Linked DNA regions of Homo sapiens. The protein of the gene in region 1 purifies or fractionates together with the protein of each later gene. This does not show direct contact. Each region holds a gene or a part of one and is shown on either strand. Other genes may lie near its edges.

Region 1 (4,069 bases):
CCCAGACAATTTTTGTATTTTTAGTAGAGACAGGGTTTCACCATGTTGGCCAGGCTGGTCTTGAATGCCTGACCTCAAGTGATCCACCCACCTTGGCCTTCCAAACTGCTGGGATTACAGGTGTGAACCACTGTGCCCGGCCAAGTTTGGTATTTTATTGTTGTTTGGATTTGCATTTTCCTGCTTATTACCCAAGTTGAGATCTTTTCCAGATTATTGGACTTTTCAAGTTTCCTAATTATGAATTGTCTGTTCCTGGTTTTTGCCTATTTTTCCAGTTGATTATTGGTCTTTTGATTGTGAATTTTTGTTTATTGTGAATTTGTGAGACTTAAAACATTTTTGCATATTAATTCTTTTTTTTTTTTTTCCAGACAGAGTCTCACTGTCACCCAGGCTGGAGTGCAATGTGGGGATCTCAGTTCAGTGCAACCTCCACCTCCTGGGCTCAAGCGATCCACCTGCCTTGGCCTCCCAAAGTACTGGGATTACAGGCATAAGCCACCATGCCTGGCCACTGTATATTACTTTTTAATTTTACAAGTTGCAAATGTTTTCTCACGATCTGTCACTTTCTTTCTTTCCTTCCTTCTTCTCTTCTTTTCTTTGTCTTTTTAAAATTTGAGACAGGGCCTCACTCTGTCACCCAGGCTGGAGTGCAGTGGCACGATCATGGCTCAGTGCAGCCTTGAACTCCCCAGGCTCAGGTGATCTTGCCACCTCAGCCTCCAGAGTAGCTGGGAGAACTACAGGTGCATGCCACCATACCCAGCTAATTTTTTTTTTTTTTTTTTTGTGTGTGTGTGTGTGTGTGTGGAGATGGGGTCTTCCTATGTAGCCCAGGCTGGTCTTGAACTCCTGGGCTCAAGTGATCCACCCAACTTGGTCTCCCAAAGTGCTGGGATTATAGGCGTGATCCACTGTGCCTGGCCCTGTCATTTCTTTTCTCAGAGAGGATAACAATTTATTTGTCCTACAGAAAGTTTTAAATGTTGAAGGAGATTGGCCTGGAAATATGCTTTTGGGGAGCAACACGGTCTGAGCCAGACATCCAGATACAGCCCATTCTTCTGGCCAGTCTTGCCCTTTGCTCCTGATTCTCCAAGCTGTACCCAGAGCTTTCTGGTTCAGCATGTACCTGGAGGCTGCTTTTGACCATGTTTTGAGAGTGGCATGGCTTTATCTAATGGGATGAACCTGGCTAAAGAGATTAGCAAAATGTCTTGTGGATCCCACTTTTAATCTGCAGCGTTCAGGCTGCCCCTTCTTGGCTGGGAAGGGCGCTGAAGAAACAACGCCCAGGACCAGGACTATCCCCTGCTCAAGCTGTGATTCCGAGACCCCTGCCACCACTACTGCATTCACGGGGATCCCAGGCTAGTGGGACTCGACATGGGTAGCCCCCAGGGCAGCTCCCTACAGCTTGGGCCATCTGCACTTTTCCCAAGGCCCTAAGTCTCCGCCTCTGGGCTCGTTAAGGTTTGGGGTGGGAGCTGTGCTGTGGGAAGCAACCCGGACTACACTTGGCAAGCATGGCGCTACTGAAAGTCAAGTTTGACCAGAAGAAGCGGGTCAAGTTGGCCCAAGGGCTCTGGCTCATGAACTGGTTCTCCGTGTTGGCTGGCATCATCATCTTCAGCCTAGGACTGTTCCTGAAGATTGAACTCCGAAAGAGGAGCGATGTGATGAATAATTCTGAGAGCCATTTTGTGCCCAACTCATTGATAGGGATGGGGGTGCTATCCTGTGTCTTCAACTCGCTGGCTGGGAAGATCTGCTACGACGCCCTGGACCCAGCCAAGTATGCCAGATGGAAGCCCTGGCTGAAGCCGTACCTGGCTATCTGTGTTCTCTTCAACATCATCCTCTTCCTTGTGGCTCTCTGCTGCTTTCTGCTTCGGGGCTCGCTGGAGAACACCCTGGGCCAAGGGCTCAAGAACGGCATGAAGTACTACCGGGACACAGACACCCCTGGCAGGTGTTTCATGAAGAAGACCATCGACATGCTGCAGATCGAGTTCAAATGCTGCGGCAACAACGGTTTTCGGGACTGGTTTGAGATTCAGTGGATCAGCAATCGCTACCTGGACTTTTCCTCCAAAGAAGTCAAAGAGTGAGTGGCTTCCAGTCCTGGGGTCAGAGCTATGAATATATTGGGGACACTGAGGCTCAGGCCTCTGACCAGCCCCTCTCCCCGCACCCAGTGCCTTTTCCTCTCCATCGGGTGCACAACTTATTGCTGCGTATGTGAGGGTGTATCAGGTGGAACCATATGAAATTGCTAATATTCTACCTCTTTGACCCATAAAAAATGACAACTTCATAGGGTTCAACCTAACATTGGCTAAGGTGGTAGGAAGGTATCAATTTATATAAGCTGTTTGGATAGGAGCCCCTTGGGATGAAGAGCCAGGCAGCAATGTGTGTCCACTTTATACAGAGGGATGGAAGTCATTCATAGATCACAAACACTGAGGTACTATTTGGCTATTTGTCCCATTCATTCAAAGTAGATGGATTCAGTCCCAGAAGTTTAAATTTCCTAGTTAGTTCCCTTGTTTTCCAACCTTTCAACCCTGAGCATCCATTCCCAAGATGTTTGTCTGGATATGTTGGAAAGAGCATAGGAAGGGGAAGTCATGAGATCTAGGGTGAAGTTTTGGTTCTGTTGTTCAAGGTCTTGTGACCTTGGGCAGGTCACTAGTCACTCTGCGCTTTGGCTTGCCCATCTTTTAAATGAGCACTGGAATAGAATAGGTAATTTTGGAAGTCACCTCCTAGCCCTGCCTGGTAGCTGGCATGCAGCAGGTACTCATTAAATGCTTGCTGGTGTTTACTTAGCGAGTCATGATAGTGCAATGTGATAAAGCATTTCTAAAGTATTCTTGGCATATGTAAAAGTAAAATGCTGCGATGGGCTGTGGGAGGTGCTGGTGAGAGAGAGACTCTCGACCACTGTGTCGGAGGGAACAGCCTGTGCACTGGCTCCAGCGGGCTGCTCTTCCCAACACACCCACCAACCTGGGGCTCGAGTGACTTTTCAGGGAAAGGGCAGCCTGCCTTGAGGCAGCCGCTTTCCCTCACCTCTTCTTTCTGTCTGACTCGACCCTACCTGGCTGAGGTTAGGGGTTCAGTTATTCCTAAGGGTGGTTTTTTTTTCTTCCCAGTGAGGCTGGCAAGTCCAAAGGGAACTTGAACTCAGGGCATTGGCACCAGCAGCAGGACATGTTTGAAGCCCAAAACAACATTAATGACGCCCAAATAGCTAGCTTATATCTGCCCTGCAGATGGAAGGGACGTCCAAGTGAAGGTCACTTCTTGGGATTTTATTTTCTTGTGGATGGAGATTACTGCTGCAAATCCCCAGTCAGGAGAGGATTGTAAAGGGCTGTGCCCTTCCCAGGTGACAGGTCTGCAGGGGCAGCACAAGATGCCACGATTTACATAAATCTCCCGAGGAGGGCATGAAGCCAGGGGGACAAGCAGAATTCTGGGGAGTGGGAGAGGCCGATGGTAGAACCAGCCTCTGTGAGCAGAGGCTCACAGAGAAGGGGCTTTTCATCTTTTCCTCTATCATTTCCCTTGATTGTCTCCTGCATAGAGTCAGTTCTTGGACAGATGTATTCAAATCTCTCGGTAACTCCAAATCCCCTTTTGTATCAGAGTGAAGGAATTATCTAGGTCACTCCACTCTCAATGGTCAATGGATCCAAAATTTCAGGCAAATATTTAGCTGAATCAAAACTCCTTCAATGTCCCATACCAACTTGTTGGTGGGAAATTTTCCTAACTCCACTGACTTGGAAAAATTCTTCTATTACACGCACAAAAAATACAGCAGTAATATTAAAAGAAGCCAAAATAGGAAAACAAATTCAAGCTAGCTTCTCACCCATAACTTGATTAATGCCTTTAGTTTTTCTACATTTCAGTTTCAGTCTAGTCTTGTTAACATTTACATAATCATACAGTGTAATGATAGTATAAAGACAATTTAGGGCCGGGTGCGGTAGCTCACACCTGTAATCCCAGCACTTTGGGAGGCCGAGGCGGGCGGATCACCTGAGTT
Region 2 (3,500 bases), on another chromosome or scaffold:
GGATTACAGGCCTGAGCCACCGTGCGCAACCTATGATTTTGGTGGTGGTGTTTTTTGTTTTTCTGTTTTTTAAATATTCTTGAGTATATTTGTAAGCTTTAGATGACCTGTTTTAAGTTATTTAATCTATCAACACCATTATATCTGTTATTACGGCCACTGTTTCTGTTGATTACATTTTTTTTCCTGCCCATAGGGACTTTTTTTTTCATGCATAGTAATTTCTTATTGCTTGACATTGTGAATTTTGCTTTCTTGGGTACCGAACATCACTGTGTTCTTTCAAAGTCTATTGGGCATTATTCTGGTCACAGAAAACTGAGGATCAGTTTGCTCCTCTGATACTAGCTTTTATCTACATATAACTATATACCTTGTGTTCAGTTGCCTTATTCAGGGGCTCATTTAGTTAACTACTAAAGTTATAGTGGTTGACTTCTGATGGTAACTCGCCAGCACCCTGGCATGCGTTCTGTCCACTGTGGGAAGGGGAACATGCAGATCTCCCAGCCCTGAGTGGTCCACAATCTAGTCTCTCCTTCCCTGGGTGGCTTCTTCTCAGGCACCTAGAGTCAGTCTCAGCAGACACTGGACATGTCTTCTGCAAGGATCCAGAGTCCTCCAGGCAGCTGCTTCTCCCAGTCTCTGCCCTGCACTTGGCCTCTGGGAGTTCCTGCCTGTGGTTCTCAACAGAGACTACAGAGCTCTACAGGGTCCTCTGCCCCTGCTGTAGCTGGAGGCTGTCCTTACGCAGTGAGCTGAGGCCACAGCTAGTCTCACTGCATGTGCTTGGCGGCGGGGACAGGAGTGATTCATTCATCAGGTAGAGGAGGAACCCTTTACTCTGGGAAAATCTGTGCCTGGGTTGGGGAAGGACAAATGAGCCCTGTGTGAATACTGACTACTCCCTGGAGCCCACAGTCTGGTGGAGCAGGTGACAGCAGGGACCTAAATAACTATCAGGAAGCATGAGGTCCCACCACTGTCACCTCCCCCACCTCCAGAGTGGCTGTGCTGGCTCCAGAGATGTCATCCCTCCATATTTGACTGACAGAGGGAGGCTGTGCAGTCCCAAGGCTCCAGGTCATGGTAGTTTGGCCAGGATAATATGGTTTGCTTAAAATCAACATTGAGGGTAATGATCGTACTAATCAGAGCATGTGTTTAAAGTTCTGTGTTTTAAGCACTTTCCATACATATTAACACTTTCAGTTCACACAACAACCTATGCAGGAACTGTGATTATCCTGGGCAGTTTTAAGGATGTGGGTGACTCAGAGAGGAAAGAAGAGGTTACTCGGGTTAATTTTTGACGAGAAATATTAGCAGGTTTTATGCTCAAACTTGGTGTAAAGCAAGGAGCCTGAATCACAGGTGGGTGAGTCACAAGACAGGGAAACCCCGCCAATGGCTCATGTCCGGGAGGAGGCAGGGTCCCTAGAATTCAATGGGACAAGAACTGAAATAAGCCAAACCCCTGACCTCCCTTCTTCTTGTTTTCCTTCTCTCTCTTAACCATGCCCATGGACACCCCCATGAGCCCATTTCTGTGGCCCAACACAGCTGTGCATCTCTGGCCACACGCCCATTCTCCCTCAATCAGAGAGGCCCACGGACGGCACAGCCTCGTCCTGCACAGCAGAAAGAGTGAATGGTGATGAATGGATCTATATTATTTCAACTCTCCTACATTTTGTAATCATATTACAATATTAATTCAGCAGTACCTCTCTTGTTTTTACTCCCCTCCCCCATTACACTGGATTCCTGTCTGTCTGGGATTCTGTCTGTGTGCACTCTTTCCTCTATGTCCACTACTGTCCCTGCCACCGATGGCATTTGTCACCTCTGCCTGGGCAGCCCCTCCAGACTCTTTGCAAGTTCATGGACTTTGGGGTTAATGATGGCTGTGCCTCAGCTCCTGTGAATGGAAACTGTGCTAAGGAAAGGAAGGGCCGTGCCATGTTCCCGATACTCCACGGCTCCTTGCATATGCGGTCGCCAGGCGCCTACATGCCTTCCATGAATGAATGAATGAGTAACGTGGATTCTAGGAAGCTGCACTAACCCAGACGTTGTGTCCTCAGCCTGCTCATAGAGTGTGTTAAACGTGAGAGGTGGGGAGTGTGGCAGGCAGGCTGAGGACAGAACAGAGGATCTGAATAGAGTACGGAGGATCACCCAAGTCCAGAGTCACCAAGGCCATTGTCAAGTTTTCCCCGGGGACATCCCTCATCAGATCCACCCATTAAAGATCATTGTTCACCCAGTGGAGAGTGGACTAGGTGGGTGCACTCAGGTGTGGCCTGGACAGCATTCGGGATGGGTCCTAGTGGTTAGGGTGAGGGTCAGGTTGCATTATCGTGAAGGAGGCAAGTGGCAGCTGAGGCAGATCTGAGGGAAATGATGATAACGCAGGCCGGTGATGCAATGGGTTTGGTAAGAAGAGGAAAGAGGTTTGTGGTGGATTCTAGTGTTTCTAATCTGAGACTTGGGTGAGGTCATTACCAAATAAGAAAGAGTAAATGGGCATAAATGGCTTTAAGAATTAGGAACCTGAATGTGCTATTGGAGACAGTATGGGCACGTCATTGCTCATAGACCTGCAGTACACAAAATGCTAAAAGATTTCAATCTGAATAGAGATGAAATGAAATGGAAACATGGATTTTTTTTTTTTTTTTTGAGACAGTTTCACTGTTGCTGCCCAGGCTGGAGTGCAATGGCGCAATCTCGGCTCACTGCAACCTCTGCCTCCTGGGTTCAAGCGATTCTCCTGCCTCAGCCTCCTGAACAGCTGGGATTACAGGCGCTTGCCACCACACCCAGCTAATTTTTGTATTTTTAGTAGAGACCGGGTTTCACCATGTTGGCCAGGCCAGTCTCAAACTACTGACCTCAGGAGATCCACCGCCTTGGCCTCCCAAAGTGCTGGGATTACAGGCATGAGCCACCTTGCCTGGCTGGGAACATGGATCTTAAGGAAAGAAGGAAGATCATCAGGAATAGAAATATGAATGCACATATAAAGAATGATTATTTCCTCTTAATTTCTTGAAAATATTCACTATCAAGTAATATAACACTTTGTAGGGTTTGTAACATATGAACATGCCTGAGACAACTATAGCAGAAAGAATGAGTAGTGGAGATGAATCAATCTGTATTATTTCAAGTCTCCTACATTTTATAATATTACCATATTAATTCTGCCATACAACTCAGTAATGAAAAGGAATGGAGTACTGATGCATATGAAAATATGACCGAATTTCAAAATAATTATGCTGAGTTAAAGAAACCAGACAGAAAAGCATATATAGTATCTGATTCCATCTATGATATTTATAGCCAGAAATGGTTTAATTAAAAAAGAAGAAGGATCTTAAATCAACGAGCTAAGTTTACAAATGTAGGAATTAGAAAAAGAATGAACCAAACCTAGAGTTAGCATTATAAAGGAAATAATTATTAGAAGAGAAATAAATAAAACAGAGAAT
Region 3 (3,500 bases), on another chromosome or scaffold:
ATGCAGATGTTCAAGCTTGTTGAGGAACAAGGCATTCTCAAATATGGAAGAAAGAGAAAAGGAAGAATTCTTATACTTTCACTAGCAGGCCCTTTCTGAGAAGGGTTAATACTGAGCCACAAGGCCCCCACCAGTGCATGAAAGGAGGTGGAGGAGCCAGAGGAATAAAAATCTCAAACCAAATTTTTCAAAAAATGCTTACAAATCTTTGCAAACTTCATAAGCTTTTCATTCTCCCCCAAAATCCTGTTAAGTAGGGCAGGTATTATCTGCTCTATTTTTATGTAAGAAGATACTGAAACAGAAAGATTAAATGACCTGCCCAAGTTCATAAAATAAATGAATGGTGTAACAGTGATGAAGACCCTGGTGTCCTGATTACTGCCAGCTAGCTCAGTGCTCTTGACACTGAACCACATTGCTTTTCCTCTTTTTCCCTTGGCATAGAGCCTATAGGCCCAGAAGTTATGTGTGCACATAACCAAATAGGGAATGCACAAGCAACTGCAGCATTATCTCAGACAGTTATTAATACATCATCATTATTCCTGGAGCTGAGCATTTGGTTTCCATATTCACTCAGTCCTTGACCTGTCTATTGAGTTTATCTGCAACTGGGAGAATAGGGTCAGTGAGTCTTTTAATGATGTGAACGCCTGTTTGCTAGGAACTCAAGGAAGCTTGTGTGGCCTGGACGCTTAATACTAGCCATCAGAATCATGCCCAAGTTTGTACTTCTGTTGCTTTTCAAAATGAGAGTTCAAGAGTTTTGCTCTGTAAAATTATCCTACAGACCAGTATAAAAAAATAAAAAAGTGTGCTAACACTTGTTTCATCTCCATTTAAAGAAATGTTTGTTACTTGAGCTAATTCCAAAGACAGCAATTTGGGAGCAGGAAAAAGAGGACAAAAATTAGGAATTGTAGGAAACTTGAGAATTCTGTAGAGTGTATATAAACCAAGAAGGAGGATAAAGCCTATCCATTTAGGAGATATTATTTAAATTCATAATTACTGATTTAGATATCTAATGAATCCTTATTATAAGTTTTATCTATATTTAGAAAATAACATGTGATTATTAAGCAGCAGATTTTTTTTTAAAGCTTCGTTCTTCCTCAGTAAGAAATAACACTACACAGATCTAGGCACTGTTTTTCTTCTTAAACCAGTACTCTTGATGCTGCTTAAATAAGATTCTTGCCATAATTAATTATAATATTAGATGAATGTATATTTAAATTTAATAACACCAGCTAAATATTAAAACTGGTGTTTAAGACAGATGAACTGCCAGGTACAGCGGCTCACGCCTGTGAACCCAGCACTTTGGGAACATGAGGTGGGCAGATCGTTTGAACCCAGGAGTTTGAAACCAACCTGGGCAACATGGTGAAACCCCATCTCTACAAAAACTACAAAACTTAGCCGGGCATGGTGGTGCATGCCCGTAGTCCCAGCTACTCAGAAGGCTGAGGTGGGAAGATTACTTGAGCCCAGGAGGTCGAGGCTGCAGTGAGCCATGACTGCACCACTGCACTCCAGCCTGGGTGACAGAATGAGACCTTGTCTCAAATTTAAAAAATAAATAAAGAAAAGAAAAATGACCTAAACTAATTAATAAAATAATTAGCCAAGATAATATACTTTATTGTAAACAGGAAGCCCACAAACACAATTTTTTTCTGCTCTCTAATTATGTGGAATCAATTGCAGAGACAACCTTGAGACAGACTGGTGAGTGCACTAACAACTTTCTTGGAGATGGGAACGTTGGTAGGTATAAAAGGAAGAAGTTTCATCTCCGACTTAGGATTTCAGCATATCTTAGATTGCTCTGTACTTTCCTTTTCCTGAATGTCATCTATTGTGAATATCATCTTTCTTTAATTTGCTTTTACTTTGAATGGAGAATTCAATTGAGAGACAATATAAAATGTAAAAAATTATATAAATTACAAATTAGGATAAGTTAAAGTTCTTGGAATAAAATTATTTTGCTTATGTTAAGCATAGGTAGCATTTTGAACTTTTATTTTTGAAAAGCACCCTCTGTAGGTTACTTGAGGTTGCTGTGGGTTCTTTTTTTTTTTCTGACTTGAATATATTTTTATATAGAGCCTTAACGTTATTTTATTATAGATTTTTTTAAAATAATGTTTTCTATTCTGTTTTATAGCACCCTAAAAAGAAAGAATAAAACAACAACAGGAAAAAAAGGAAAATATTTAAATTGTGACAAAAACCCACTGGGTAGGTATTTCAAGGGGGCACACTGTGGATTTGGGATATTTTAATATTTGATCTCTTAAAAATGAATATTTAGAAAAATATATAGCTAGTACATAGGCATTCCAAAATCATTTTAAGGGCTACTAAATTTTGTAAAATTATATTCAAATGTGTGTGCTTCCAGAAACTGTTTTGCATGCACTCCTTCGATTAGTGATTCGTTTTCATCCCTTTGGGTCTATTGTATAAATATCATCCAATTAACCTCATCACCGTTGAGTTCCCACAATAGACCTAGTGGGAAAGTACCTAACAGAATATAGGAAAAGGTAGTATTTGTTCAGTAAGCATTTGATCTTTTTATTTTAAGACACATTCTAGGTGTTCCATGTGTAGACATGTTGTGGAGGTAACAAGTAGGGTACTGTATAAATATTAGCACTTTAAATTTTGCAGTATGTTTTCAAATGTTGCTATTATGGAATTAAAACCTGAATCCAAAAACTAATAAGCTATTCAAGATTTCCTTCCTTCATGACAGCTGTTATATTGATATCAGTCAATTGTCATCAACTTAAATGCCATTGTTCCATGAAGAAAAAAATATAGAAGATCCTTACTTGAGAGGGTGTTCCTATCAATGCAAGTATAATGGGGTAAATGCCTGAAGAAACGTAACCTTGTTCTCTCTTTCAAATTCTGGGGTGCAGTCTAATTCTGGCCCAGACCTCTACCGACAGAATCAAGAATCCAGTTTATGTAGCTTTCTCTTCTCAGTAATTTTTGTATCCATCAGGAGCAGACTTCAAACCCCAAGTCAATTTCATACTATTTGTCTATTGTTTGGAACTGTCCAAACCGGAAGCTAAAGTTGTCACACATTTGAGTGGCATTCCTGTTCTAGGCTTCCTCTCCTAGAATTGGGTCAGAACTGAACCAAATTACAGGACCATCTGCTAGTCCATTTACCCATGGCACTCAGCCATTTTCCTGGCACAACAAAAGACCTCAGAAAAACAAGACCTATTTTTCCCCTTATGCAAAATTAGTGTTATTTCTTCTGCTGTACTACATCAATTAATGAGCATAAATCAGAGAAGTTGAATGAGAAGGCCTTATAATTCAGAGAAATTTGCTATGAAGTTGATTTCAGTTTCAGGTTTAACTGTTTTCCCTCCTACTTTTCCTTTTATTTTCAGGTTCTCTTGGTTACAAACTCCTTCCCTTCTGGTGCTGCAAAAATGAGTGGGAAATCCCTGCTCTTAAAG
Region 4 (3,500 bases), on another chromosome or scaffold:
AACTGTAGGAGTCACACTTGTGTGGGTGAAGATACTGGTGGCAAGGTAGGTGTGGTGGTGGGTGGACATTCTCTTCTGGTTGCTTCAATTTTGTTCAGTGAGTAGGAAACAAGGTCATTGGCTGAGAATGAGGATGGGGGAGGAGGCTTTAGGGGTTGAGGAGAAAGAAGGAGTGAAACTGCCATCTACCAGAACTGGAGAGTGAAGGGCCTTGGGATGTACAGTATGACTCTGAGGTAGCAATAAGGACCCTCTTGAAGTCTGCATCATGCATTTGAAATGAGACAAGTTCGCATAATTGTGTTTTTGTCTGGCCATGTTCAGTTTCACAGGTGCAGTGTGGGTTAGGCAGAGTGAGGCTTAACTAGAGCTGTGGTTCTGCCAAGTAAATATATCGAAAGTGAGAGAAAAGATTGGGCCAGTGGCTCACGCCTGTAATCAAAGCACTTTGGGAGGCTGAGGCAGGAGGATCTCTTGAGGCCAGGAGTTCAAGACCAGTCTGGGTAACATAGCCAGACCTTGTCTCTAAAAAAGTAAAAATTTTAAAATTAGCCAGGTGTAGTGTGTGCACTTGTAGTCTCGGCTACTTGAGAGGCTGATGTGGGAGGATCTCTTGAGTCCAGGAATTTGAGGCTGCAGTGAGCTATGATTGTGCCACTGTACTCCAGCCTGGGTAATAGTGAGACCCCAACTCTTAAAAAAAAGTGAGAGAAGGGAAAAAAGAGACAGGATGCAAGGGAATGATTATTATAATCACTGACTGGAATTCACACTGGATGGATGAGGTGGTAAGGGAGAACATCAAAGAGGCAAAGAACAGTGAGGAGGCAACAGGATCAACAATTTGTTGGTCCTGGATGTGCAAGCGAATTATTTATTTATTTTTTTGAGACAGAGTCTTACTCTGTCACCCAGGCTGGAGTGCAAGGGCTTGATCTCAGCTCACTGCAAACTCTGCTTCCCGGGTTCAAGCGATTCTCCTCCCTCAGCCTCCCGAGTAGCTGGCATTACAGGCGCCCGCCACCACGCCCAGCTAATTTTTTCTTTTTTTTTTTTGCAGTTTTAGAAGAGATGGGGTTTCACCATGTTGGTCAGGCTGGTCTCGAGCTCCCGACCTCAGGTGATCCGCCCGCCTAGGCCTCCCAAAGTGCTGGGATTATAGGCGTGAGCCATCGCGCCCAGCCGTAGGCGAATAGAACCTATTCTCATCACACTCCCTCTTTGCAAAGCACAAAGAGTCAAAGATCAAAGGAGCCAAAGAAATAGTTCAACTCTCATTCTAAGGATAGGGAAAATCACATAGCAAGTTAGAGCCAGGACTGGAACCCAGGACCCTCCTGACCTAGTTTTCTCTCTGCCACATTTTGGATCCCTTTGGGAATCAGGGTTCACAGGCCCCTATCAACAAGGTCTCTTACTGCTGGGGATGGGGGTTCTCGTATGCACCATTCAAGCACATGGAAGTGTTCCTTCTAGGGTCAGGAAAGGATAAAGTTTCCCTTGTCTTTTAAATCTCCCTCTCCATGGTCTTCAGAAAGCACATCAGCTTTGACCTAACAAGCTAGCCCTTTTGTCCCTGGGTCTGGACAGAAATTCTTCTCCCTCATTCAGTATCACTACAATCCACTCTACTTACCTATTGGCATTGACATTCCACCTACCCCCGCCCCCAAAGCTCCCTGCGGGCAGTCTAGCAGAGCCGGAGAGAGCCAGTTGCCCAATTCATATCTATCACAGCACCCAGCATATAGTAAGAACCAGAGTCAGCTTTGAAGACTACAACCAGCTCATATCTATAAGGCTTACGAGTTGCTTTTCCTTCCATGCACTCATTCAGATCTGTTCACAGCCCTGACAAGTCATCATGATTCCCATTTCATAGAGAAAAAGACTAAGGCCGAGGAAGGGTAAATAACTTGCCCAGGGTCACACAGCTTAACAATCATAAAATCCACTGGCTCTAAATCCCATGTCTTTCTCATGCTACTGTTGTGAGATGTTCACCTAAGCTGTTCTAACCCCTTTTCACCAGACTGCAGACCCCACCCAGTCAAAGTGAGGCCCTTCCTCACCAGAAGGCACTCAAGACACAAGGGACTGTCAGTAAATGGCAAACTGAATCCCCTGGCCCACCTAACCCCAGACTGGCCACTCAATCCTTGTTGCCTACCCTCCCTCCTCTCACTAAGAGGCTTTTTCTGCTTCCAGGGGTGTACCAGGCAAGAAGTGTGGGACCATATTGCTGACTGCAGAAGAGCTTAGCAATTGTCGGGTCAGTAAGGGCCACATGCTAGACCCAGGAGCTCCCTTCTCTCCCCGTAAACCCTTTAATGGACTGTCTGAAGGCTATGGACAATTGGGGTGCCACCAGCCCAACTTCATCCATCCCTAGGACATTGCCACCATGCAGCTGTGTGCAAACAAGCTGGACAAGAAGGACTTCTTTGGGAAATCAGACCCCTTCCTTGTGTTCTACAGGAGCAATGAGGATGGCACGTGAGTCACTGCCATCAGGGCTGTTAGGCTGGGGTGGGCCATGTGCTTAACAAGTGGGGGAATCTCAGGAATCTCTGAGAGCATCTGGATTCAGTCCTACCCCGGGCACGAGATAAATTATACCAATTCTTCCCACTCCCCTCCAGGTTCACCATCTGCCACAAGACAGAGGTTGTGAAAAACACGCTGAATCCTGTGTGGCAGCCCTTCAGCATCCCTGTGCGGGCTCTGTGCAATGGAGACTATGACAGGTTGGCTCCAGCATAAGCTGGGGAGTAAGGAGCCAAGGACATGCCAGTGTGGTTCCTGGGCCCAAGAATGATAGTAGAAGTATCATAATAGCGTTGGAGGGTCCTGCTCAGTGAGACAGAGTTTGGGGCATGAGGTTGGGTGGATGGACAGGCAGATGGATAGCCACACAGATGGATAGGTGGACTATCCAGGGATGGATCGACTGATGGATGGAATGGTAGGTGGATGGGTAGATGAAAAGGCAGATGAACAAATGAATAAGCAGATACATGGATGGATCGTTGGATGGGTAAACTGGTGAATGGTTGGATATGTATGTGGATGGATATATGAGTGAATTGATGGGTGGGTAGAGGGGCAGATAAATGAATGGACAGCAGAAGAATGGATAATTGGACTGATGGGTGGGTTTGTGGATATACAGGTGATGGGTGATTAACGGATGAATGAGCTGATGGATGGGTGGGTGATAAATTGGTAAATGAGAGTTTGATGGATGACTGGGGAGGCAGGAGGATGAATAGAAAAGCAGGTGGAATACAAAAAGATAGGTAGAGTGACAAGTGGATTGATGGTTGGATAGATGAATAGATGGCAAATGGATGAACGGATGGATTTGTAGGTGAATTAGTTGATGGATGGGTATAAATTAGATGGATAGGCCAACCAAATGAATGAGTAAATGGGTAGTATAAAGACAGATGGTAGGGGCCGGGCGCGGTGGCTCACACATGTAATCCCAGCACTTTGGG
Region 5 (4,243 bases), on another chromosome or scaffold:
AAGCAGTCTGGCCATGATTTGGTAAAGCAGCTATGCTGTGCTGTGGGATCTCTTCTGTCCCTCGTCGGTTTGTACTCTCCAAAGCCCGCAGGCTGGAATGACTAAGTTGCCTGAACGGGAAAGATGGCGGCCTGCCCCGTCTTTTCTCTCAGAGTTTTATCTTGTTTCGTGGAGCTTAATTTTTAGCCTGTTGATTTTACTGTCTACATTAGACTTGTTGAGAAAGAATCTGTTCTCTTTTAGGTGAGATAAATGAGAATTCATTGTCTTCTGTAAATAAACCTGTTCATGTCTTGTTCTCTGGAAAGAAGTCTCTTTCAGCTATCTGACTTTGGTCACAATCATGTAGAGCAGCAGCCAGTCTACAATGACGTAATTGAATTTCCATTTCCAGTGTTTCCTCGTTGTGTCTTACATTGTCCAGTTCAGAACTGAGCATTTTATTCTCAGTTGTCAACATGCTAAGCTGTCCACTGTACTGAAATACTGTGCTTCCTCAATTTTTTTTAAGGTGTGCACTTTTATCCAACTCTCCTCAAGTCAGAGTACAGGTAAGCCCTGGCTGCCTCCAGCCACTCTCAGGGAGACCAAAAGCCTTCATACACCCCAAGTTGGGGTACAAAAGAGGGGGGCCACGAAGGCTGATCATTCAAAATAAAACAAAATTAAAAAGTATTAAGGCGAAGATTCAAAAAATTTTGCATTATGTAATTTGCACAAAAGCAATGCTATCACCTCCCCTGTGTGAACTAGGGAGAGGACTGGGCCATTCTCCTTAGAGAGAAGTGGGATGGCTTTTAGCAGGGCAAGGGGCTTCCTGAAACAATGCGTCTCACAATATTTGGAATGACTATTGAAAAGAAGAACAATGTACAATCAAAGTCCTTGGCAACATTGTAGAACTTTGGAGGAAGCTTCCTCCAACCGACTGCTGTCACCTTCACCATTCCGGTTTTTAAATCCTGAGTCAAGCCAATAAAAAACAAAACAAAAAATGAAACAAGAAAACAAATAAAGCCATGCCAATCTCATGTTGTTTTCTGAGAAGTTTGGTTTTGTCAAGAAAGGGTGTAACGCAACTAAGTCAGAGTCCACCTAGAAGCATTTGCGGTGGACAATGGAGGGGCCTGACTCATCATACTCCTGCTTGCTGATCCACATCTGCTGGAAGGTGGACAGCGAGGCCAGGATGGAGCCACCGACCCACACGGAGTACTTGCGCTTGGGAGGAGCAATGATCCTGATCTTCATCATGCTAGGCGCCAGGGCAGCGATCTCCTTCTGCATTCTGTGGGCCATGCCAGGGTACATGGTGGTGCCGCCAGACAGCACTGTGTTGGTGTACAGGTCTTTGCGGATGTCCACATCAGACTTCATGATGGAGTTGAAGGTAGTTTCATGGATGCCACAGGATTCCATGCCCAGGAAGCAAGGCTGGAAGAGCGCCTCGGGGCAGCGGAACCGCTCGTTGCCGATGGTGATGACCTGGCCATCGGGCAGCTCGTAGCTCTTCTCTAGGGAGGAGCTGGAGGCCGCCGTGGCCATCTCCTGCTCGAAGTCCAGGGCAACATAGCACAGCTTCTCTTTGATGTCACGCACGATTTCCCGCTCGGCCATGGTGGTGAACCTATAGCCACGCTCGGTGAGGATCTTCATGAGGTAGTCAGGCAGTTCCCGCCCAGCCAGGTCTAGGCGCAGGGTGGCATGGGGGAGGGCATTCCCCTCATAGATGGGCACAGTGTGGGTGACCCCGTCACCAGAGTCCATCACGATGCCAGTAGTACGGCCAGAGGTGTACAGGGACGGCACGGCCTGGATGGCCACGTACATGGCTGGGGTGTTGAAGGTCTCAAACATGATCTGGGTCATCTTCTCGCGGTTGGCCTTGGGGTTCAGGGGGGCCTCGGTCAGCAGGATGGGGTGCTCCTCGGGAGCCACACGCAGCTCGTTGTAGAAGGTGTGGTGCCAGATCTTCTCCATGTCATCCCAGTTGGTGATGATGCCGTGTTCCATGGGGTACTTCAGGGTCAGGATGCCTCTCTTGCTCTGGGCCTCCTTGCCCACATAGGACTCTTTCTGATGCATGCCCCCCATCATGCCCTGCTGCCTGGGGCGCCCCACGATGGAAGGGAAGACAGCCCGGGGGGCATCGTCGCCCGCAAAGCCGGCCTTGCACATGCCAGAGCCGTTGTCAATGACGAGCACGGCGGTATCATCATCCATGGTGAGCTCATTCAATTGTAGAGCCTTTAAAAGATTATCATTCTTTTTTTTCACACTTTCAATATCCTCCAAATATTTCTTTTCTCTTAGCTGGCTCTGATGTTTCATTGTGTCTAGCTCCAGTCTTAGCATGGCAATTTCTTCCCGCAACGTACTATTTTCATGCAAGACGTCTTTTTCTTTCTTACAACTAAGAGAAAGCTAAGTAAACAAAGAGAACTTTTAGTTAGCACTCAATAGATTGACATATCATGATTTCTTCTGAAATTCAAAAATAACATGTATTTGTATAATGAAAGAATCCCCATAGTGGATATTTAACTGGAAAAAAATTGGACAAAACTTCAAACCTAATAAGAGTGTAAATTCCTCCAGTGATTTATTTTTCATCGTCTTTAAATAAATATTTAAACTTTTAGGAATCTGCTCCTAAATTCCTAAAAGTTTAAATATTTATTTAAAGACGATGAAAAATAAATCACTAGAGGATTTTTAAGAATCCCAGAATTAAAAAAGCCTTTTTCTGAGTTACAAAAAACCCAGAGGCATAAAATATAAGATTAATAATTTGACTACATTTTTAAGATTAGGTTTACACTCTGATATCTAACCTATCAACCACACCATCCTAAGAGCCTTAGCTATGCATATATTTGGACAGAAGCAATTTCTCAAAGTTCTTTAAGTTTCTTTTACTGAAGAACGTTTTACCGATATTCTACATTTCTAATATTTCTATACTCAGTTATAAGAATTACATTTATTTATAACTGTCAAATCTAAGCACTGTACCCTTCTACACTGTACACATCTGTATCTAGGCATTGCTCTTCTACATATAATACTGAACTCATTTAAGATCGCGATTCTTAAAAGGAGAGGTCAAAAAATATACACAGATGCAGGATTTTCCCCAGGTCTGCTGATGCTACTTCTAGTGATCCTCCACAAAACCACACTTACTTCTGTGGTGTAAATATATAAATACAAAAGAAACCTTTTGTTTCAAAATATGAATGGTAAATAAGATACAACTTATAGAGATCTTCTTAGAAATCATGAGATTATTTGCCATTGCGGTAACTTTTATTTCCTCTTTATAATGTTTGAAACAGTAGTAATGGTGAAATAGGGGAAATATACTGAACTATTTCTCCAGAAACAAAATACTTATCAATAAATTATTACTAAATGTGTATCATGGCATGTCATTGTTTTCAAACCTCTTTACACTGAAATGAGAAACTACTTGGAGCAAACTGTTCCTCTCTGCAAAAGTAAGGATAATGGTATCCACAATGTGGCCTCTGACCCAGCTATACATTTCCTACTTTCTTATCAGTAAAAATAATCAATTGACTTCTCTATTAACATTTTTTAAAAAACTAATGTCCAAAAACGAGAAAATCTGTTTTCAGTAGCAAAACTTATTTCTGATGTGGAAAGATCATCAATTCTTATGAAAAACATCAAATACTTCTCCTTTGGATTGAGGCCATTGTGCAGGTCACTACTCAACTGTTGCAGGCAAATGAAGGTGAATTAAGAACATGGCTTTATCCTATACGTACGTATATAGATATATGACAAAGGATATATAGAATATATACACACATATATATGACTTAAAAATCCTTTATATTTCCAAAATACAGTTCTTTAAAATATACACACATATAAAAACATTTGAAAATAACTAAAGAAAATACCTCAGAATTCATTTTTTCAACCACTTCTATCTGCTTTTCTTCATGAATCAGAATCTCATCGTGTAATATTCCAGTGTTCTGTTCTTCACAAAATTGCTTCTGAGTATCATTTTGTTCGTCACTAGAAGAAATTTTAATTTTCATGAAATACTGGAGCTGTCCCTAAAATGATGTACAGGGCAAGATGGCGCCATCAGATGTCATTCACACAATGCATATCTGCACATTATTCCAAGACAAGGCAAAGGGGTCTCACATCTGTTAACCAGGTGTCCCCAACCATGCTGGCACCAGGGACTGGTTTTGTGGAA
Region 6 (3,500 bases), on another chromosome or scaffold:
ATACCTTCTGACGTACTCTTACTCCACTACAGACTGCTTCACCCTCTCTTTGATCCCACATTCTTCCTTCGATGACAGTAGCTTCCAAACTCTTTTGACCTGAGCCAAAAGAATGTATTTTCCATTACAACCAAGTTACATATTACACAGAGAGAGAGAGAGAGAGACAGAGACAGAGAGAGAGAGAGAGAGAAATTGAAGTACTCAAAGCAGTACTTACCCTTATATAAAACACACTCTCTTTTTCCACTTCTTCCCTCCTTCTCTCCCTCCTTCCTCCCCTTTTTCCTTCCTCTCTTACTTCTTTCTTAATATATATGGAAGCCCGTTAAACAGATTTCATCATCCATAGTTTGAAAAATACTGACCTACAAGTTAAGGTATTAGGAGGCCCAAACTTTTTCTAAAACCTAACCTGTCTCTTAATTTCTCCATCATATTTACAGTACCATGATTATTTAATTTCCTCGAGTTTGTAACTTCAAAGATCTTTCTCCCTCTCAGTCATCTACCATTTGGGATCTATCATCTACCCTTGGTTGCTTTGTTATTTCTAACATCTCAGCTATGCCCCCTTTATCCTTATCCAAAATCATTACAAGTGTATCTTTCCAAAATTTCCTGCTTTAGAAAATATATCATAGTTGGGTTTCTTTAATCAAACAAGCACCTCTAGCAGTACATAAAATTTGATTTTTATTTTTCAGCAACATGTCTACTAATAAAATGTATAGCTGTGAAATATTTCATTTACAATGCATTTCCCATATATTATCTTATTTTGTTCTTATATTCGATTGCGGAAGTTACAGTTCAAAGAGGTTACATAACTGATATAAATTCACTTGGCTAGTTAGTAGCAGAGCAACTTCTTGAACCCAGATCTTTCGAATCTAAGCCCAATGGTGTCCTTTCCCCGCATACAGGTGTTCCTACTGATTAAGCAAGATACTTTCATTGGACTTCACTAGCCTCCCTTCTCCTAGTATCATCTAGTTGATGTTTCATACAGCAATAAAAATCCCTTCGTTAGCCCTTCATTTTGTCCGACCACCATAGTGGATGCTATATAAAACCAGAATTCCCTTTTAGTGCTGCAATGAACTATATGAATTTGTTCCTACTTAACTCTCTGCTAATTCCCAGCTAGTCCCAAACATAGAGCCTGAGGCAGCACACGCTCAGTTGCTATTGTTAACTATCCTCTTAAACATATATATATATTTTTAATTTCTCTGTCATCTCCAGCAGGACTCCTCTCCTTTGTCTGACATTTAAGATTTAAATATGGCTTGCCCCAAGTTCCAGCCTTTAACTGCTCTTCAATAGCAATTCTTTGGCCAGATCCACCTCATCCTATAGGAAAACAGGCCCTCTCTCCCTATTTACCTTCATATCTGTGGAGGTCCAGGTCAGTTCTAGCTTTTCTATACCTCTTTTTTCCCCCAGACATTAAAACTAATAGACATGATTTTTGCCTCTCAATTTTCCCAGTTTTTACCTGCCTGCTTCATTCGGGCACTTACTGATATAATATCTTTCATGATTTCTTCGCAGCTTGAACTAAGCAAAAGTGCTTCCTCTCCAACCACCTGAAAGGGTCAGTATAGTAACCTTAAATTTATTTTGTTTTTCCTCTAAGCCTCTAGCACAGAACTTTGCACATCATATTCAGAGTACTGTACACCTTTTTAAACAAACATTTCAAATAAAATATCTGACCACAGGGAACTTTTTTAAAGCACATAATGAGTACATACTTTATATCTGCTTTACATATGTGGTTTTATTTCAGCTCACCAAGACCCACAAGGGAAGTGTCATTAACCCCATTTTACAGATGGGGAAACAGGCTCAGAACGACAGCAACTTGCAGAATGGCAGGACGGTTCCTTCAGACCACAGCTCTGAATAGTGCCCTTCCTCCCCATCACTCCTCCCACACTTTGGTCAGACTCAGTCCAGAAGCCACAGGAATTCCTGTTTGCTTGGCATGTATTCAGATGCTATATATATTCAAATTATCCTTGCCTTAGAAAAGGATAAAATTCAGACAACGAACGTAAGTTGCAGTCCCAGCTCCACCTGCCTAAGTCATTTAACCTTTCTCAGTCTCAGTTTCCATTTAAAGACTTACAATCTGGACTTGCAGAATTTTTTTTTCTCCTTATCTCTGGCTACTCCTCCCCACTACTCTCACACTGTTCCCCATGTACAACCAGATTCAGATCTCAACCACTGCTCAGGGTGTCTGCTCTGCCCAGATCACCCCTTCTTCCTGCTCCATCTAATGAAAGCAATTCTTCCCCAAGCCCAGCTCGAGGGAGTCCCAGGCAGAATTAATTGCTTCCTTTCTTGTGGCCCAACAGCATTTACTTCATGCCTCTGTTTATAAGTATAGTATGTCTGTCTCCCCTCCTTCCAGGTGGTAAGCTCTAAAGGCAGATGTATTATTTTCCTGGACTTCATAACGTGAAACTCCACACGATTCCTGAAGCTATCTGACCTTCTCCAGACTTCACAAAGGTTTGTTGAGTTAAGGAATTCAGGAATGTTTGTTGTAATTCAATGTTTGTTGAATTAAGTAGTCAATCAACCATGCCCTAAAATGAGAATACCATCTGTTCTTCCTATTTCACAGTTGTTTAAATGTTACATCTTCACCTCCCCAACCACCCAATCCCCCTTGATAATCTCTCATCCTGGGTTTTTCTTAGACTTGAATCTGAATATGTAATTATAAATGTATGTGTTACTTTTTAATGTCTATATTTCTCTGTACTACTAGACTGGAAACTCCATGAAAACAGGGACGATGTACGTTTAGTTCACCGCTGTATTCCCAGCACCCAGCACAGAGCACGTACTCAGTCAATATTTACTAAATAATTAGTGTGAAGATTAAGCACATATCAAAGTGTTTTGTAAACCATAACGTGATGATTAAGATATAATTATTGGTATTATATATCCAGTTTATCTCCTTTTAGATAGCTAAAACAAAATCTTCAGTCTCCTCTCCAATATCATATGCCTTTAGCTGGCAAAACTACTTCTTGCCCTGCCAATCGGGCACTTACATCTCACTCATTTGAATAATAATAGCAATTGCTTTATTTTCTTCTAGTTAGTAATTTACAAGAATATCGGCAGTGACAAATATCAAATCAGCTCAGATCTCATTTAAGATCTTCTGTCAAATAAAAGTGAAATACTTCTTTCTAAAAATGACTTTGACTTCAATATATGATTCTAATCTTCAAAGCACTACACATACAACCTCTATGAGGTCCACGTTTAATAAACTGGAACGATTAGTTTATATTCCCAAGCAAGTGGGTCCAAGTGGACCAAAGGATAGTTGCTAAAGAAGGACCAGAAGTTTTCAGGGTTCCTCAACTGCATGGACTCCTTCCAAGGCTCTGGGGGACTGGGACTTGGCAATGTGTTCTCATGGTCATGTATTCAACTAACCTTCGCAAAAGCAAGAAGAGTTTTGT
Region 7 (3,500 bases), on another chromosome or scaffold:
CACTTTGGCTGCCTTCATTCTTTCTGCCTCACTGAACAATTTACCTACAACATTCCACGCGCCCCTGTAGAGAACTGACAACATGCTTGCTATTTCCTCAGGCTTGGGGGCCTCTAACCTGGCCTAATCAATCCTTCTCATCTTTTGTACCCACCTTTTGCAGGAAACCTGTGGCTTTTTTTTTTTTAAAGTAGAGACAGGGTCTCGGTATGTTGCCCAGGCTGGTCTTGAGCTCCTGGGCTCAAGCGATCCTCCCACCTTGGCCTCCCAAAGTGCTTGGATTACAGGCGTGAGCCACTGCACCTGGCTGAAATCTGTTACTTTAATGTGGGAGAATTAAAAGGAGGTAAGGGGTTGATAATAACTTACTGAGAAACAGTGAGAAATATCCTTGATTTCTGATTCCACCCAATTTCTAGCATAAGATCAAAGCCCTGAAATGAAACTTAAGCCAAGAAAAGTCTATGTTAATCCGTCTTATTTCCTGGTAATGTGACCGTCTTCAGAGTTCACCTGGGGCTATGGATATTCTCAGGAGACTGGCATGTTCTAAGGGTAGATGTGCCTATGGTGTGGGGGGAAGGTCTCGTAACTGGTGAGTTCAGTTCCCAGCCCTGCCAGTGGTGTAACTTGTGGCGAGTTCAGTTCCCAGCCCTGCCAGTGGTGTAATTTGTGGCGAGTTCAGTTCCCAGCCCTGCCAGTGGTGTAACTTGTGGCGAGTTCAGTTCCCAGCCCTGCCAGTGGTGTAACTTGTGGCGAGTTCAGTTCCCAGCCCTGCCAGTGGTGTAACTTGTGGCGAGTTCAGTTCCCAGCCCTGCCAATGGTGTAACTTGGAGCAGGTTATTTGGTTTCTCTAGCCCTTGTTACTCATATGTAAAGCGGAAATGACAAACACACCACAGGATTGCTGTGGGCAGAAAATGGAATAGAATGGATGTAAAAGTGCTTGCAAACCATCCAGCCCCATATAAACGTCAGGGGTGACTGTTATCACTAGTAATATCACTGTCATCTCCTACGAAACTTACATAAGAGGTAGAAGTAAAACACGGCTAGTGGAAAACCAGCCTACGTGCCAGCAGCTTTGAGAGTTGAGGGGATTCTGAAACAAGGAATGGGAATATGTGTCCAGTTTCTTACCCGGTGTTCGGCCAGGAACTCGGGTGTCAGCGTCCAGGGCGCATTCCTCACCACCTCATCCACGTAGCGGCAGTGCTGGACTGCGTCATAGCGCTCATTCTCGTTCATCACCGTGAAGCCTTTGAAGTTGTGTGTGAGCTCATCACTGCAAACTGGTTCACCACATCATAAATTGTGTGTTGGAGTCCTCTTTGCTTAGCACCTCCTCAGCCACCGACCTCTCCCATCTTCTCCCACTGCTTAGGACTGCAACCATCTTCCCCAACTGGAAAAAAGTCTTCTAAAGGTGGTTGAACCTGGGTGATAACGCTTTTCCTAATGCAGCGTATACCTTCAGGAGCAACACTCACTAAACAGTATGTTCATACTTTGGAGAAGGGACAGTACAACAGGTGACCAAGATCTTTGACTCTGAAATAAACCTGCTGTGCGTGTCTGCATCAATTAAGTCCTTAAACATGTTTTCCTGTTTTATTCACACTGGACTGGACCACCTAACATTTCCTTGGCAGACTTTTGTACTCCAGTTAATTCAAAATGATAAACTGAAATCTAAAGCAAATGTTTTAAAGTGGACAACGGAAGTCACGGCTGCTCCTGTGACCACAGAAACTCAGCTACAAGCAGTGAATAAATGCCAGATGGCACAGTCGAGGAGCTTGAAGCTCCTCTCTCCAGGTTTAGTTTGCTGGTACCCATATACTTCATGTGTGTTAGAGAGGCTGTACTACATCCTTCATTTAAAAATGGAAACAAGAGCCAGTGTACTCAGCTGAGAAAGACAGACTGTACTATCATCTTTTTCTGCACAGCACCTGAAGTCACCAAATGTTTTCTTACCTCCCACAATGAGGTACGTATTAGGGAAAAGGTTCTTCGCTTGCATCAGAGCTCGGGCGTGACCAGAGTGAAATAAGTCAAATATTCCATCGGCATAAACTCTCACAGGTCGCTCACCTAAATCCAAATGAAAGAATTGATCACAAAAATACCTTTTTTTTTGTCATTTTTATTTTTATTTTTGAGGCCGAGTCTCACTCTGTCACCCAGGCTGGAGTGCAGTGGCGTGATCTCGGCTCACTGCAACTTCCGCCTCCTGGGTTCAAGTGATTCTCCTGCCTCAGCCTCCCAAGCAGCTGGGATTACAGGTGCATGTCATCACGCCTGCCTAATTTTTGTGTTTTTAGTAGAGATGGGGTTTTTCCTTGTTGGCCAGGCTGGTCTCGAATTCCTGGTCTCAAATGACCCGCCAGCCTCAGCCTCCCAAAGTGCTGGGATTACAGGTGTGAACCACCATGCCAAGCCACAAAAATACATTGATTCGATATCTTGTACTTGGCAAATGGAACTGGCTCTGTGTGACAGTTCCATGACTGTATACTCCTTTCTTTTTTTTTATTTTTTTCTTGAGACGGAATCTCGCTCCATCACCCAGACTGGAGTGCAGTGGCACGATCTCGGCTCACTACAACCTGCAACTCCCGGATTCAAGCGACTCTCCTGCCTCCGCCTCCTGAGTAGCTGGAACTACAGGCGCCCACCACCAAGCCCAGCTAATTTTTTGTATTATTTTTTAGTAGAGATGGGGTTTCACAGTGTTAGACAGGATGGTCTCGATCTCCTGACCTCGTGATCCACCCGCCTAAGCCTCCCAAAGTGCTGGGATTACAGGTGTGAGCAACCGCGCCCGGCCCAACTGCATACTCCTTTCTTTAGGTGTTCTCTGGGTATTCACCCTGATTTTAGGGGTAGGTTGGGTTATGAAAAATGACTATAAAGACCTTTTCATTTTTTTTTTGAGACAGGGTCTCACTCTGTCATCCAGCCTGGAGTGCACTGATGTGGTCACAGCTCACGGCAGCCTTGACCTCCTGGGCTCAAGTGATCCTCCCATCTCAGCCTCCCAAGTAGATGGGACCACAGATGGACACCACCATGCCCAGCTAATTTTTTTTTTTTTTTTTTGTAGAGACCATGTTGCCCAGGCTGGTCTCGAACTCCTGGACTCAAGCAATCCCACCTTGGCCTCCCAAAATGCTGGGATTCCAGGTGTGAGCCACCATGCTCAGCCTATAAAGAGATTTTTGACATCATCATCTGCACTAACTGCCTCTGTTAGCCTGGTTGTACCAAACTTTTCAGGCACAACAAATAACAGAGAACTGTCAACTTAGAAGCCAGGAAATGATTTCCCGGGGAACAAGACTAATTCCAAAGTGAAATAAACATTAAAAACAGAATCAGCATAATGGTCCATCATGCTTTAAATAATAAATCTAAGGAGTCCATGTAACTTATTCCCTTTCTGTGAATAAAGGAAGAGCTATTTTACTGCAGCAGAAACTGACAGGAGCATTTAC

What was found.
Region 2: the proteins of PRPH2 (region 1) and TNFRSF10B purify together in Homo sapiens (affinity purification with mass spectrometry; one large-scale study listed by BioGRID and IntAct). This does not show direct contact.
Region 3: the proteins of PRPH2 (region 1) and RAB9B purify together in Homo sapiens (affinity purification with mass spectrometry; one large-scale study listed by BioGRID and IntAct). This does not show direct contact.
Region 4: the proteins of PRPH2 (region 1) and CPNE9 purify together in Homo sapiens (affinity purification with mass spectrometry; one large-scale study listed by BioGRID and IntAct). This does not show direct contact.
Region 5: the proteins of PRPH2 (region 1) and POTEE purify together in Homo sapiens (affinity purification with mass spectrometry; one large-scale study listed by BioGRID and IntAct). This does not show direct contact.
Region 6: the proteins of PRPH2 (region 1) and NCAM1 purify together in Homo sapiens (affinity purification with mass spectrometry; one large-scale study listed by BioGRID and IntAct). This does not show direct contact.
Region 7: the proteins of PRPH2 (region 1) and PCYT1A purify together in Homo sapiens (affinity purification with mass spectrometry; one large-scale study listed by BioGRID and IntAct). This does not show direct contact.

Annotation. Positions count from the first base shown.
Region 1 is NC_000006.12:42,719,798-42,723,866, reverse strand, and holds the start of PRPH2 (peripherin-2), read left to right. Parts: upstream 1-1,269; 5' UTR 1,270-1,532; coding exon 1,533-2,113; intron 2,114-4,069.
Region 2 is NC_000008.11:23,062,532-23,066,031, reverse strand, and holds part of TNFRSF10B (tumor necrosis factor receptor superfamily member 10B isoform 1 precursor), read left to right. Parts: intron 1-3,500. UniProt on the Homo sapiens protein: Receptor for the cytotoxic ligand TNFSF10/TRAIL. The adapter molecule FADD recruits caspase-8 to the activated receptor.
Region 3 is NC_000023.11:103,825,758-103,829,257, reverse strand, and holds part of RAB9B (ras-related protein Rab-9B), read left to right. Parts: intron 1-2,179; 5' UTR 2,180-2,253; intron 2,254-3,431; 5' UTR 3,432-3,473; coding exon 3,474-3,500. UniProt on the Homo sapiens protein: The small GTPases Rab are key regulators of intracellular membrane trafficking, from the formation of transport vesicles to their fusion with membranes.
Region 4 is NC_000003.12:9,710,333-9,713,832, forward strand, and holds part of CPNE9 (copine-9), read left to right. Parts: intron 1-2,208; coding exon 2,209-2,272; intron 2,273-2,392; coding exon 2,393-2,496; intron 2,497-2,642; coding exon 2,643-2,747; intron 2,748-3,500. UniProt on the Homo sapiens protein: Probable calcium-dependent phospholipid-binding protein that may play a role in calcium-mediated intracellular processes. Plays a role in dendrite formation by melanocytes.
Region 5 is NC_000002.12:131,261,536-131,265,778, reverse strand, and holds the end of POTEE (POTE ankyrin domain family member E), read right to left. Parts: intron 4,054-4,243; coding exon 3,933-4,053; intron 2,425-3,932; coding exon 1,096-2,424; 3' UTR 501-1,095; downstream 1-500.
Region 6 is NC_000011.10:112,967,920-112,971,419, reverse strand, and holds part of NCAM1 (neural cell adhesion molecule 1 isoform 2 precursor), read right to left. Parts: intron 1-3,500.
Region 7 is NC_000003.12:196,246,227-196,249,726, forward strand, and holds part of PCYT1A (choline-phosphate cytidylyltransferase A), read right to left. Parts: intron 2,098-3,500; coding exon 1,981-2,097; intron 1,293-1,980; coding exon 1,141-1,292; intron 1-1,140. UniProt on the Homo sapiens protein: Catalyzes the key rate-limiting step in the CDP-choline pathway for phosphatidylcholine biosynthesis.